Homo sapiens: one gene and its partners. The protein of the gene in region 2 purifies or fractionates together with the protein of the main gene of each other region. This does not show direct contact. Each region holds a gene or a part of one and is shown on either strand. Other genes may lie near its edges.

Region 1 (3,753 bases), on a different chromosome or scaffold from region 2:
GAGAATGGCGTGAACCCCGGAGGCAGAGTTTGCAGTGAGCCGAGATCGCGACACTGCACTCCAGCCTAGGCCATAGAGCGAGACTCTGTCTCAAAAAAAAAAAAGAAAACAAAATGTCTAAAATGGGAGAAAGGGAATTCAAAATAACAAAAGTATATGTGTGTGTTACTCAGAAGCATGAAGTATAGATGTAAAGGGCAGAAAAAAAAACTAACAGCTGTCAAAGGTGCCTGCCTGTAGTCCTAAGTACTCAGGCAACAGAGGTAGGAGGATCATTTATGCCCAAAAATTTGATGGCAGCCTGGACAACACAGCAAGACCCTATTCTAAAAAACAAATAAATAAAAATAAGAGCTGTCAAGTAGAGTTTGAGAAGTAGGAATCAGCTGCAGAATAAGAAACCAACTTGACAGAACATAGAAAAACTAAACAGAAGCCATCTGGAAAAAGAAAAACTAGAGAAAGAATTATATATTTTTTTATTTTTTTATTTTTTGGAGACAGAGTCTCGCTCTGTCACACAGGCTGGAGTGCAGTGGCGCAATCTCTGCTCACCACAACCTCTGCCTCCAGGGTTCAAGCAATTCTCCTGTCTCAGCCTACCGAGTAGGTGGGACTACAGGCGCTGCCACCACGCCCGGCTCATTTTTGTATTTTTAATAGAGACGGATTTTCACCATGTTGGTCAGGCTGGTCTCTCTGCCTCCCAAAGTGCTCGGATTACAGACGAAGAATATTTTTAAGAAGGGCAAAAGCACATGTGAGGGAGTAGAAAAATGGCAAAACAAGAGAAGATTAACAAATGAAAGCACAATGGAAGACTAGAAAGATATGATATACAGACGCATCATCACACTCCAAAACTCAGACATTCTAGAAAGCATGGGCAGTTCACAGATGGCCAGCCTCTGCCAAACTGGGGGAGAATACTAACCTCTTTATATTCTTCACAGCCACTGCCTCTTCTCCCTCCATTCCTTACCTTCTATCCAAAGCACCCTGTTTTGTCATTTCACTCAAACCTAACTTTACAGAATAGCTTCACATGTTCCAAAGTTACTCACTAGTTAATCCATATTCCGTTGAAATCCCCAGGTTCTAATGTAAATGACTTTAAATTTGGGGGAAAAAAAAAGACTCTAAGTGTAAGAGAGGTGAGGCCGAGGCCGAGGCCGCCGCCGCCGCCCGGCCAGGCCGAGGCCGCCGCCGCCGCCGCCGCCGCCGCCCGGCCAGGCCGAGGCCGAGGCCGAGGCCGCCGCCGCCGCCGCCCGGCCAGGCCGAGGCCGCCGCCGCCGCCGCCCGGCCAGGCCGAGGCCGAGGCCGCCGCCGCCGCCGCCGCCGCCGCACATTAACCTTTTAAGTTAAAGATTAAGAGAACCAACACCTCTTTACAGTGAAATGCCCCAACTAAATACTACCGTATGGCCCACCATAATTGCCCCCATACTTCTTACACTATTCCTCATCACTCAGCTAAAAATATTAAATACAAATTACCATCTACCCCCCTCACCAAAGCCCATAAAAATAAAAAACTATAGTAAACCCTGAGAACCAAAGTGAACGAAAATCTGTTCGCTTCATTCATTGCCCCCACAATCCTAGGTCTGCCCGCCGCAGTACTGATCATTCTATTTCCCCCTCTATTGATCCCCACCTCCAAATACCTCATCAACAACCGACTAATTACCACCCAACAATGACTAATCCAACTAACCTCAAAACAAATGATAGCCATACACAACACTAAAGGGCGAACCTGATCTCTTATACTAGTATCCTTAATCATTTTTATTGCCACAACTAATCTTCTCGGGCTCCTACGCCGAGGCCGCCGCCGCCGCCGCCGCCGCCCGGCCAGGCCGAGGCCGAGGCCGCCGCCGCCGCCGCCGCCGCCGCCCGGCCAGGCCGAGGCCGAGGCCGAGGCCGCCGTCGCCGCCGCCGCCGCCCGGCCGAGGCCGAGGCCGAGGCCGCCGCCCGGCCGAGGCCGAGGCCGAGGCCGCCGCCCGGCCAGGTCGAGGCCGCCGCCCGGCCAGGTCGAGGCCGCCGCCCGGCCAGGTCGAGGCCGCCGCCCGGCCAGGTCGAGGCCGTCGGTCTCTTCGAGATCCACTCACCTTTCCAGGCGACGGGGCGGAGCCCTGCACCGAGGCGAGGTACCGCTCCCCGTAGGCTTTGCTGCGCCTCATCGCACCGCCAACCTGGCTCCCGAGACGCGTGAAACCAGCGCTCAGCCCCGCAGCAGTCGCCAATTCCAACAGGAAAGCGCCTGAAAGCCACTGACGTAGCCGGCGGAGGACCACTGTGACGCACTTGTGTACTGCGTCAGCACTGTGTATCCTTGGCGACGTCGGCGCTCGAGCTGCACTCGGCCGGGCTCTTGGCAGCACCCTGTGCTCTGAGGGTGTCTTGCCCGCCGGGCGCCGTGGCTCACGCCTGTAATCCCAACACTTTGGGAGGCCGAGGCGGGTGCTGTAAACCATTCATTTGCTTATTTCAATATTTTCATTTGTATGCTTTCAGATAAGCTGAACTTGTTCCAATCTGCTATACATAGGTTTGTTTATATCTTTACAGTAAATATCTCAGTTAAGAATTATTTTCTCTTTGTAAAGACATTGTGACTCAGATACTACTTGTAAAGTCTATAGGAACACACAGCTAGTAAATGGCATAATTGAAATTCAAATGGAAATCTGATTCTAAAATATACTTGTAGCAACATAGCTGATTCCTGTTACTGTATCTGCTCCTGTAAATTTTGTAAATTCATTACAATTTTTAAAATATAAAATATTTTCATATATTTATTTAGTCTTTGCTACCATGAATAGCTTCAATGGGAATGATGATTAATTCTAGAATGTGCTTGTCTTTTACATTTCTATGATTTTTAGGGTTAAAATAAACCTTGTTGGTTTACAAATGATTCCTGAATGATTTCTTTCCTCTAAATGCTACAGCACTTCACTACAAGGTCTGCAAAGAAGCTATGTGGGGGAGTGAAGTAGGAGGTGACTGAGATTATGTAATTAAGTTCATATATGTCATAATTTTTCATTGTTCCCACTGTTTTAGAGAAAAGTAACAAAGGAGAAGACATGTGGGCGTGTAGAGAAATGCAAGGTGGAGATATTAATGCTACAGTATAATCTTCTGTGGGTGTTTAGCCTGGGGATGAGAAAACTAAGGAGAACCATGCCAGTTGTGTTGAAATATTTGAAGAGCTGTCATGCAGAAGAGAGAATAGACTTTTTTCTGTAGGCCCAGAGGGTATAACTAACATTAAGGGAAGAAAGTCATAGGGTAGAAAAATTTTATTCAATTTAAGGAATAACTTTCTAATAGTGCATAGTATTGGAACAGGTGGCTGCATAAAGTCCCACGAAGTGTTCATTCTAATGCTGAATACCCATGCACCAAGAATCCTGTGGAAATGATGCTTGCAGGGATTAAAGAATGAAGTAGAATCTAATCTAATATAGCCTCTTCCTACTAGAATGCCAAACTCAGAAAGACTTTCTCTCTGTTCTCTCTTTCTCTCTCTCTCGTGCTCTCTTTGTCTAATTTATCTGTATACCTATTTAATTTCCAAAAAATGAGATTGACAGGAAGTGTAAGAGTTAAAAAGAATAATGTGTGTATGCGTGTGCATGTGTGTGTGAAAAAATGGATTTTAAAGGTATTGGATGCCCGTTGAGAATGTTTATATTCCTCTACCCCTTGAGGTTTATGGTTAGCAAAAAAATAGTAACA
Region 2 (3,653 bases):
CCAAGTAGCTGGGATTACAGGCATACGCCACCACACCTGACCAATTTTTTTGTATTTTTTGTAGAGATGGGGTTTCATCATGTTGGCCAGGCTGGTCTGAAACTCCTGCCCTCAGGTGATCTGCCCACCTTGGCCTCCCAAGGTGTTGGGATTATAGGCATGAGCTATCGCACCCAGCCCCCTTCTTTCTTTTTAAAGGCCTTATGCCTTCTTTGGGCTGGAAACTGTTATGTGCCTGTGAGGATGTAAACTCTTTTGCCCCACTGTTCCTATTCTGATTCTATATGAGATATTTCATAAACCCCCGAGCTGAAGAATTACTTTGGTCTCATTTATTTCATAACACTGTTAAGTCACCTGGCAAACAGGAATGTCTGGCTGTAACAGTGATTGTACAAAATAGGTCCTTTCAGAAATGTCGTAGTTGTTATAAGCATAGTTACTGATAAGGACATTTGTTGTTCACATCAAAAACATAAGGGTGGACTTGTGGATTTGTTTTTTTTTTTTGAGACGGAGTCTCGCTCAGTCACCCAGGCTGGAGTGCAGTGGCACGACCTCGGCTCCCTGCAACCTCTGCCTCTTGAGTAGCTGGGGGCCATGCCCAGCCAACTTGTGGATTTTTAAAAAAAATTCTTTAAAAAAAATGTCTGACAAGCCGGGCGCAGTGGCTCATGCCTGTAATCTCAGCACTTTGGGAGGCTGAGGCGGGCAAATCACTTGAGGTCAGGAGTTCGAGACCAGCCTGGCCAATATGGTGAAACCCCGTCTCTACTAAAAATACAAAAATTAACTGGGCATGGTGGCGCACACCCTGTAGTCCCAGCTACTCAGGAGGCTGAGGCAGAAGAATCGCTTGAATCCAGGAGGTGGCGGTTGCAGTGAGCTGAAGTCATGTCACTGCACTCCAGCTTGGGCGACAGAGCGAGACTCCATCTCAAAAAAAAAAATTATCTGATAAAAAAGTGATACTCCATCTGGGGCACATTATAACCAACATTTACTCATAATCAGTGGCTTGTGACAATGGATTGAACTCAGCCTGTCATTACGGAAAACATTTTTAGTTTTCTGGGGCAGTTTATGCCTGGCAATTTTCTTAATATTATAGACCTTTGCTTTGTGTGATCTCTAATAAATAGCTGTATTGATAACTCTTTCAGTTTGGAAGTCTTTTTTCCCTCTATGTTCTGCCCTAATAGTAGATTCAGATCATGTTAACAAGAAGGTATTCTAACAGCTGTCTCTCTGTAACATGTGCAGTGTTATTTGCCCAATTATGTTTTAGCCACTGTATTTCTATATTTCTGATAAGCTTTGTGGAAAACTGGCACCATTACTGATTTGGTTGTTAGTCTGAGGGTTTTTTAAAAAATTGTATTTGTGAAAAATTAAAATTCCTACTTCCTTTTTTCTCATCCTGATTTTATTTGTGTTACAGATCCGAGTAAATAGTTCCAGATTGGTTCGAGTCACCCAGGTGGAGAATGAGGAGAAACTGAAGGAGCTAGAGCAGTTTAGTATCTGGAACTTTTTTTCCTCCTTTTTAAAAGAGAAATTGAATGACACCTATGTTAACGTGGGTCTATACAGCACAAAAACCTGCCTCAAAGTTGAGATTATAGAGAAGGACACCAAGTACAGTGTCATTGTGATCCGGAGTAAGTCTCACCTCTGTTTTTCTGATGGATTCTGTAGTGATAAGGACTGAGTTCTGAAGGGTATAATTAGTGAGACTGAGAAGTCAGCCTAAGACAGCTCCAGTTGGGTTCTGATTATAACCCTGAGTATACCACTGCTCTAAACAGTTCATGGAGACTTCACCCCTATCAGACAGGCCTAGAATTGAAACTCCACCTCAGGAAATTCTGAGTACCTCCTTACCTGGAACTGTGAAGACTTTTATTCTTTTATTCCCAATTACATTGTGCTGCTAATGTCCCTGAGCATATATGCCAAATACTCTTAGAGTAAATCAGATAGACGTGTTCTACCTTCTGGACACTTCTAGACAAAGGTAACTGTCTGATGTGTACATGCCTACATTTAAAGACGTGAATGGTTAATAAAAATTGAAGAAAGGTAAAATTGAAAATCATTCACAAGTAAAAAGAGTATTCATGGAACCATAAATAAAGATGAAGACCACTGCAGTTTAAAACTTATTCAGTGGAACTGGGAGAAGTTTTCTCTTTTCTGAAGATGACTGAGAAAGTTTCAGGGGAGATGGATCCTGTTGAATTCTCTCTGACTTTGTTTCCCCTTGGTTACTACACAGGGTCCTGGGATGTTGTAAGTAGTAGAAATGTTTCTAGGTTTAGTATGAAATAGGTTGTGCCCTTCCATTTGTCCTAGGGTTCTTTGGTTACGTAGGGTTGGCTTGTTTTTTGACGTTCCTTCTACAGTTACTGATTCCTTCTGCTCCTGTTCTGTTTGTGGGCCTCCCGTAGAACTCTTGAATGTGAAAGCTGTGGGAGTATCTGGTATGCCACTAAGGGGCCTTTGCTAGGGCCCCCTGGTCCTGAGTGAGAGGTATTTGCGTGTAGGCTTTTCCAGCACAGTGTTCTGTAGCAAAGGGAAGTAGGTGGTATTGTTGGGCAAGAAAAGCAGCCAGTTAGAGAACAACACAAGGCCCTGACCCACAGTTCTGGGCAAATCTGCTGAGTTCCATGACTGTGAGTGACTTAAAGCTTGAAAGCCAGAGTGATAGAGACCCCTTGTGGGTGATTGCATGAATTGCTGATGGTACTGTGTCTAGCTTTGTCCAAAACGAAGCTTGAGTTTCTTTTAACCTTAGCATAGGTAGCCTAAGTAAAAGTAAGATCTTCAGGCAAATACAGGTTAGACAGAGACCTAATTATACATTGGAAGGGTGCCCAGGCTTTAGGTGAAATTTAAATGCTTTTTAGGTGGGCTGTTTGCATTTATTTTTACTGTAGCTGACCAATAGTGCCAACGTTGTCTTTTATTCTATAATACCTTAAGCAGTTTTGTTCCCTTATTAAGCAAAAATCTTTATTTATTTCAGGATTTGATCCCAAACTCTTTCTTGTTTTCCTTCTTGGACTTATGCTATTTTTTTGTGGAGACTTGCTGAGCAGGTAGGTTCCAAGGCTAGTGTGCAGAATGAAACGGCTCATACCTATCCTGCCTGCGTTTTATAGTAACTATTAAGTACTGCCATTCCCATTTCCAGGACCTTTATGGCTTGGCCGTTGCCTGCTTGGATATTTAAAAAAATACTTTAATGTGTATTATGATTTTTGTTTTTTCTTATTTGAACAATGTTGACAATAGTGAAATTCCCACATTAGGTTGGCCCATCATTAGGTTGATAGGAGTTAGCCAATACAATGAAATGGAACATCATCACCCTTTCTATTGCTAGAAGTAATGTGTTAAGGTGTCATCTTTACAGGTCCATGGGTTGATGAGTTTCATTTTGTTCAGACGTAAAGAAACAAATAGCTTCTGGGTACGGTGGCTCACGCCTGTAATCACAGCACTTTGGGAGGCCAAGGCTGGCGGATCATGAGGTCAGGAGATCGAGACCATCCTGGCTAACACGGTGAAACCCCATCTCTACTGAAAATGCAAAAAAATTAGCCAGGCGTGGTGGCGGGCGCCTGTAGTCCCAGCTACTTGTGAGGCTG
Region 3 (3,653 bases), on a different chromosome or scaffold from region 2:
CTATTCATATGGTGCTTTAAAAAATTAGATTACTTTTAGTAGATTTATTAGAGCCGCACAGTTTAGAGTCAGTAGTCAATTAAAGTCCCTACTTAAACTTCAGACTAAGATTTTTTTTTATTTAATATTTTATTTTTTCTTTTTGCTTTCATGCAGACAGACATCTTGCAAGACTTTAAGATTCTTGGGCCATTTCTGTCAGGTTGTTCTGTGTTCTGTGCCTGCTTCCTCCCCATAGTAATTTCAAAATAGCTATCCTCACCTCTGTAAGGTTTCCGAAATCAAACTTGGGCTTCTGGCTAGCCTTTTCTAGGTCTTGATTTTTCAGTGCTTTCCAGAGGCAATTGTTTGGAACCTCTTGGCACAGTTTCTGTTTCTTCTTCCATGTACAGGCATAAAAGGTCTTTTGGTTGTTTTCTGGTAAAACTATCATAAAACAGTTCAAGCAAATGACTATTGGTAGTTTTGTCATTAACATGGGTGCCTTCTAGTCATTTTGTTTCCTGGCAAAACAGACCAAACAGAGGGAGCAGACAGTTTGTACATCTGTATGAGTGTTGATGTGCTTTTTATTTTAAGCCAGGGAACACATTTTATGTTATTTATGACATCCTTTCCATGAATTTGTCAGGTGATTTTTGAGCTGAACATTCTCAGTAATAGCTTTAGTTTACAAAATACAACCTAGTCTTTCTGCAGATTTTCTAGGCCCACTTCAAATGCATTGACTATCAGATGGCATCTTGGTTCCTTACGTCCTTTCTGTGACTGAATGTCCATAATTCCACATCATACTGATCTTTCTTAGAAAAGGCAACAGTTACTATCTTCTTTATTCCTTTTTTAATGCTTGCGAGGTAGTTCTTGTTGATCACAGCGATGCTATTCTCTCATTCTTCATGTCATATTTAGCAATTTTTTTCTAGTTTGTCATTTGATAATCTTGATTGGTGTATTTTGATGTACAGAAATTTAAAATTTATGTAGTTAAATCTTTCTTTAATTTCTATTGCTTTTGTATTTATAGCTCTTGCCTAGATAGTCTTAACTGTAGTATAGACTTTAACAGTGTTTTCTTTCTTTTCTTTTTTTTTTTTCAGTTGCAACTACTGGCCCTTCAGTATATTATAGTCAGTCACCAGCATATAATTCCCAGTATCTTCTCAGACCAGCAGCTAATGTTACTCCCACAAAGGTAACAAAGGAATAATTTATACATTTATAATTATTTTCTTTTTAAATTGTTTAGGGTTCCTTCAAATAAATTCAAGAGAGCAGTTCACTATTAAAACTTTTATGTCCCTTAAAATGTAGATATTTTAAATTTATCTCCAAATACAGAAATTATCCTTCTCAGTCACCTTATTTTTGTGTTAATAAGTGTGAATATTTAGAATATTTTAAAAATGGGAGTGGTGGTGGTGGATCCTTCATCGTTCTGTTTTAACAGAAATAGAACTGTAATGCCCTTGCTGACCCACTATGTGGTAAGTACTTTCAGGCCTGATACAGCTATATATATAACAATTGATTGAAGACTCAATATTACAGTGGTAGTTGAATGTGACAGCTTTGAGGACAGAGTGTTGGGGTGCATTTAGACCCTTGCTCTTCTGCTTATTTTGACCACAGGCAAGTTTCTTAACCTCTCAGTGCATCAGTTGCCTTATATGTAAAATGAGGATAATAATAATACCTTAATTCATAGGGTTTTTGAGGATATTAAAATGAGATAATAATGTAAAGTGCTTAGAACAGTGCCCAGCTGGCACATTAATGAATGCTCAATAAATGTTATCATCATCATCATCATCATTATTGTTAACATCATTTGATAAATTGTTTAGGAATGAAGAAGGTATTTATTTCATGACTATTTTGGGCATGTGGATCAAGAAAATTCACCTTCATTTATGTTTCAGGGTTCTTCTAATACAGAATTTAAGTCAACCAAAGAAGGATTTTCCATCCCTGTGTCTGCTGATGGATTTAAATTTGGCATTTCGGAACCAGGAAATCAAGAAAAGAAAAGGGAAAAGCCTCTTGAAAATGATACTGGCTTACAGGCTCAGGATATTAGGGGCCGGAAGAAGGGCCGTGGTGTGATTTTTGGCCAAACAAGTAGCACTTTTACATTTGCAGATGTTGCAAAATCAACTTCAGGAGAAGGATTTCAGTTTGGCAAAAAAGACCTCAATTTCAAGGGATTTTCAGGTGCTGGAGAAAAATTATTCTCATCACGATACGGTAAAATGGCCAATAAAGCAAACACTTCCGGTGACTTTGAGAAAGATGATGATGCCTATAAGACTGAGGACAGCGATGACATCCATTTTGAACCAGTAGTTCAAATGCCTGAAAAAGTAGAACTTGTAACAGGAGAAGAAGGTGAAAAAGTTCTGTATTCACAGGGGGTAAAACTATTTAGATTTGATGCTGAGGTAAGGCAGTGGAAAGAAAGGGGCTTGGGGAACTTAAAAATTCTCAAAAACGAGGTCAATGGCAAACTAAGAATGCTGATGCGAAGAGAACAAGTACTAAAAGTGTGTGCTAATCATTGGATAACGACTACAATGAACCTGAAGCCCCTCTCTGGATCAGATAGAGCATGGATGTGGTCAGCCAGTGATTTCTCTGATGGTGATGCCAAACTAGAGCGGTTGGCAGCAAAATTTAAAACACCAGAGCTGGCTGAAGAATTCAAGCAGAAATTTGAGGAATGCCAGCGGCTTCTGTTAGACATACCACTTCAAACTCCCCATAAACTTGTAGATACTGGCAGAGCTGCCAAGTTAATACAGAGAGCTGAAGAAATGAAGAGTGGACTGAAAGATTTCAAAACATTTTTGACAAATGATCAAACAAAAGTCACTGAGGAAGAAAATAAGGGTTCAGGTACAGGTGTGGCCGGTGCCTCAGACACAACAATAAAACCCAATGCTGAAAACACTGGGCCCACATTAGAATGGGATAACTATGACTTAAGGGAAGATGCTTTGGATGATAGTGTCAGTAGTAGCTCAGTACATGCTTCTCCATTGGCAAGTAGCCCTGTGAGAAAAAATCTTTTCCGCTTTGATGAGTCAACAACAGGATCTAACTTCAGTTTTAAATCTGCTTTGAGTCTATCTAAGTCTCCTGCCAAGTTGAATCAGAGTGGGACTTCAGTTGGCACTGATGAAGAATCTGTTGTTACTCAAGAAGAAGAGAGAGATGGACAGTACTTTGAACCTGTTGTTCCTTTACCTGATCTAGTTGAAGTATCCAGTGGTGAGGAAAATGAACAAGTTGTTTTTAGTCACAGGGCAGAAATCTACAGATATGATAAAGATGTTGGTCAATGGAAAGAAAGGGGCATTGGTGATATAAAGATTTTACAGAATTATGATAATAAGCAAGTTCGTATAGTGATGAGAAGGGACCAAGTATTAAAACTTTGTGCCAATCACAGAATAACTCCAGACATGAGTTTGCAAAATATGAAAGGGACAGAAAGAGTATGGGTGTGGACTGCATGTGATTTTGCAGATGGAGAAAGAAAAGTAGAGCATTTAGCTGTTCGTTTTAAACTACAGGATGTTGCAGACTCGTTTAAGAAAATTTTTGATGAAGCAAAAACAGCCCAGGAAAAAGATTCTTTGATAACACCTCAT

The links.
Region 1: the proteins of NEMP1 (region 2) and RGPD2 purify together in Homo sapiens (affinity purification with mass spectrometry; 2 studies listed by BioGRID and IntAct, with this or other methods). This does not show direct contact.
Region 3: the proteins of NEMP1 (region 2) and RGPD8 purify together in Homo sapiens (co-immunoprecipitation; 3 studies listed by BioGRID and IntAct, with this or other methods). This does not show direct contact.

What each region holds. Positions count from the first base shown.
Region 1 is NC_000002.12:87,823,544-87,827,296, forward strand, and holds the start of RGPD2 (RANBP2-like and GRIP domain-containing protein 2), read right to left. Parts: upstream 2,254-3,753; 5' UTR 2,187-2,253; coding exon 2,115-2,186; intron 1-2,114.
Region 2 is NC_000012.12:57,068,682-57,072,334, reverse strand, and holds part of NEMP1 (nuclear envelope integral membrane protein 1 isoform a precursor), read left to right. Parts: intron 1-1,441; coding exon 1,442-1,661; intron 1,662-3,028; coding exon 3,029-3,101; intron 3,102-3,653. UniProt on the Homo sapiens protein: Together with EMD, contributes to nuclear envelope stiffness in germ cells. Required for female fertility. Essential for normal erythropoiesis. Required for efficient nuclear envelope opening and enucleation during the late stages of erythroblast maturation.
Region 3 is NC_000002.12:112,388,517-112,392,169, reverse strand, and holds part of RGPD8 (RANBP2-like and GRIP domain-containing protein 8), read left to right. Parts: intron 1-1,100; coding exon 1,101-1,195; intron 1,196-1,922; coding exon 1,923-3,653.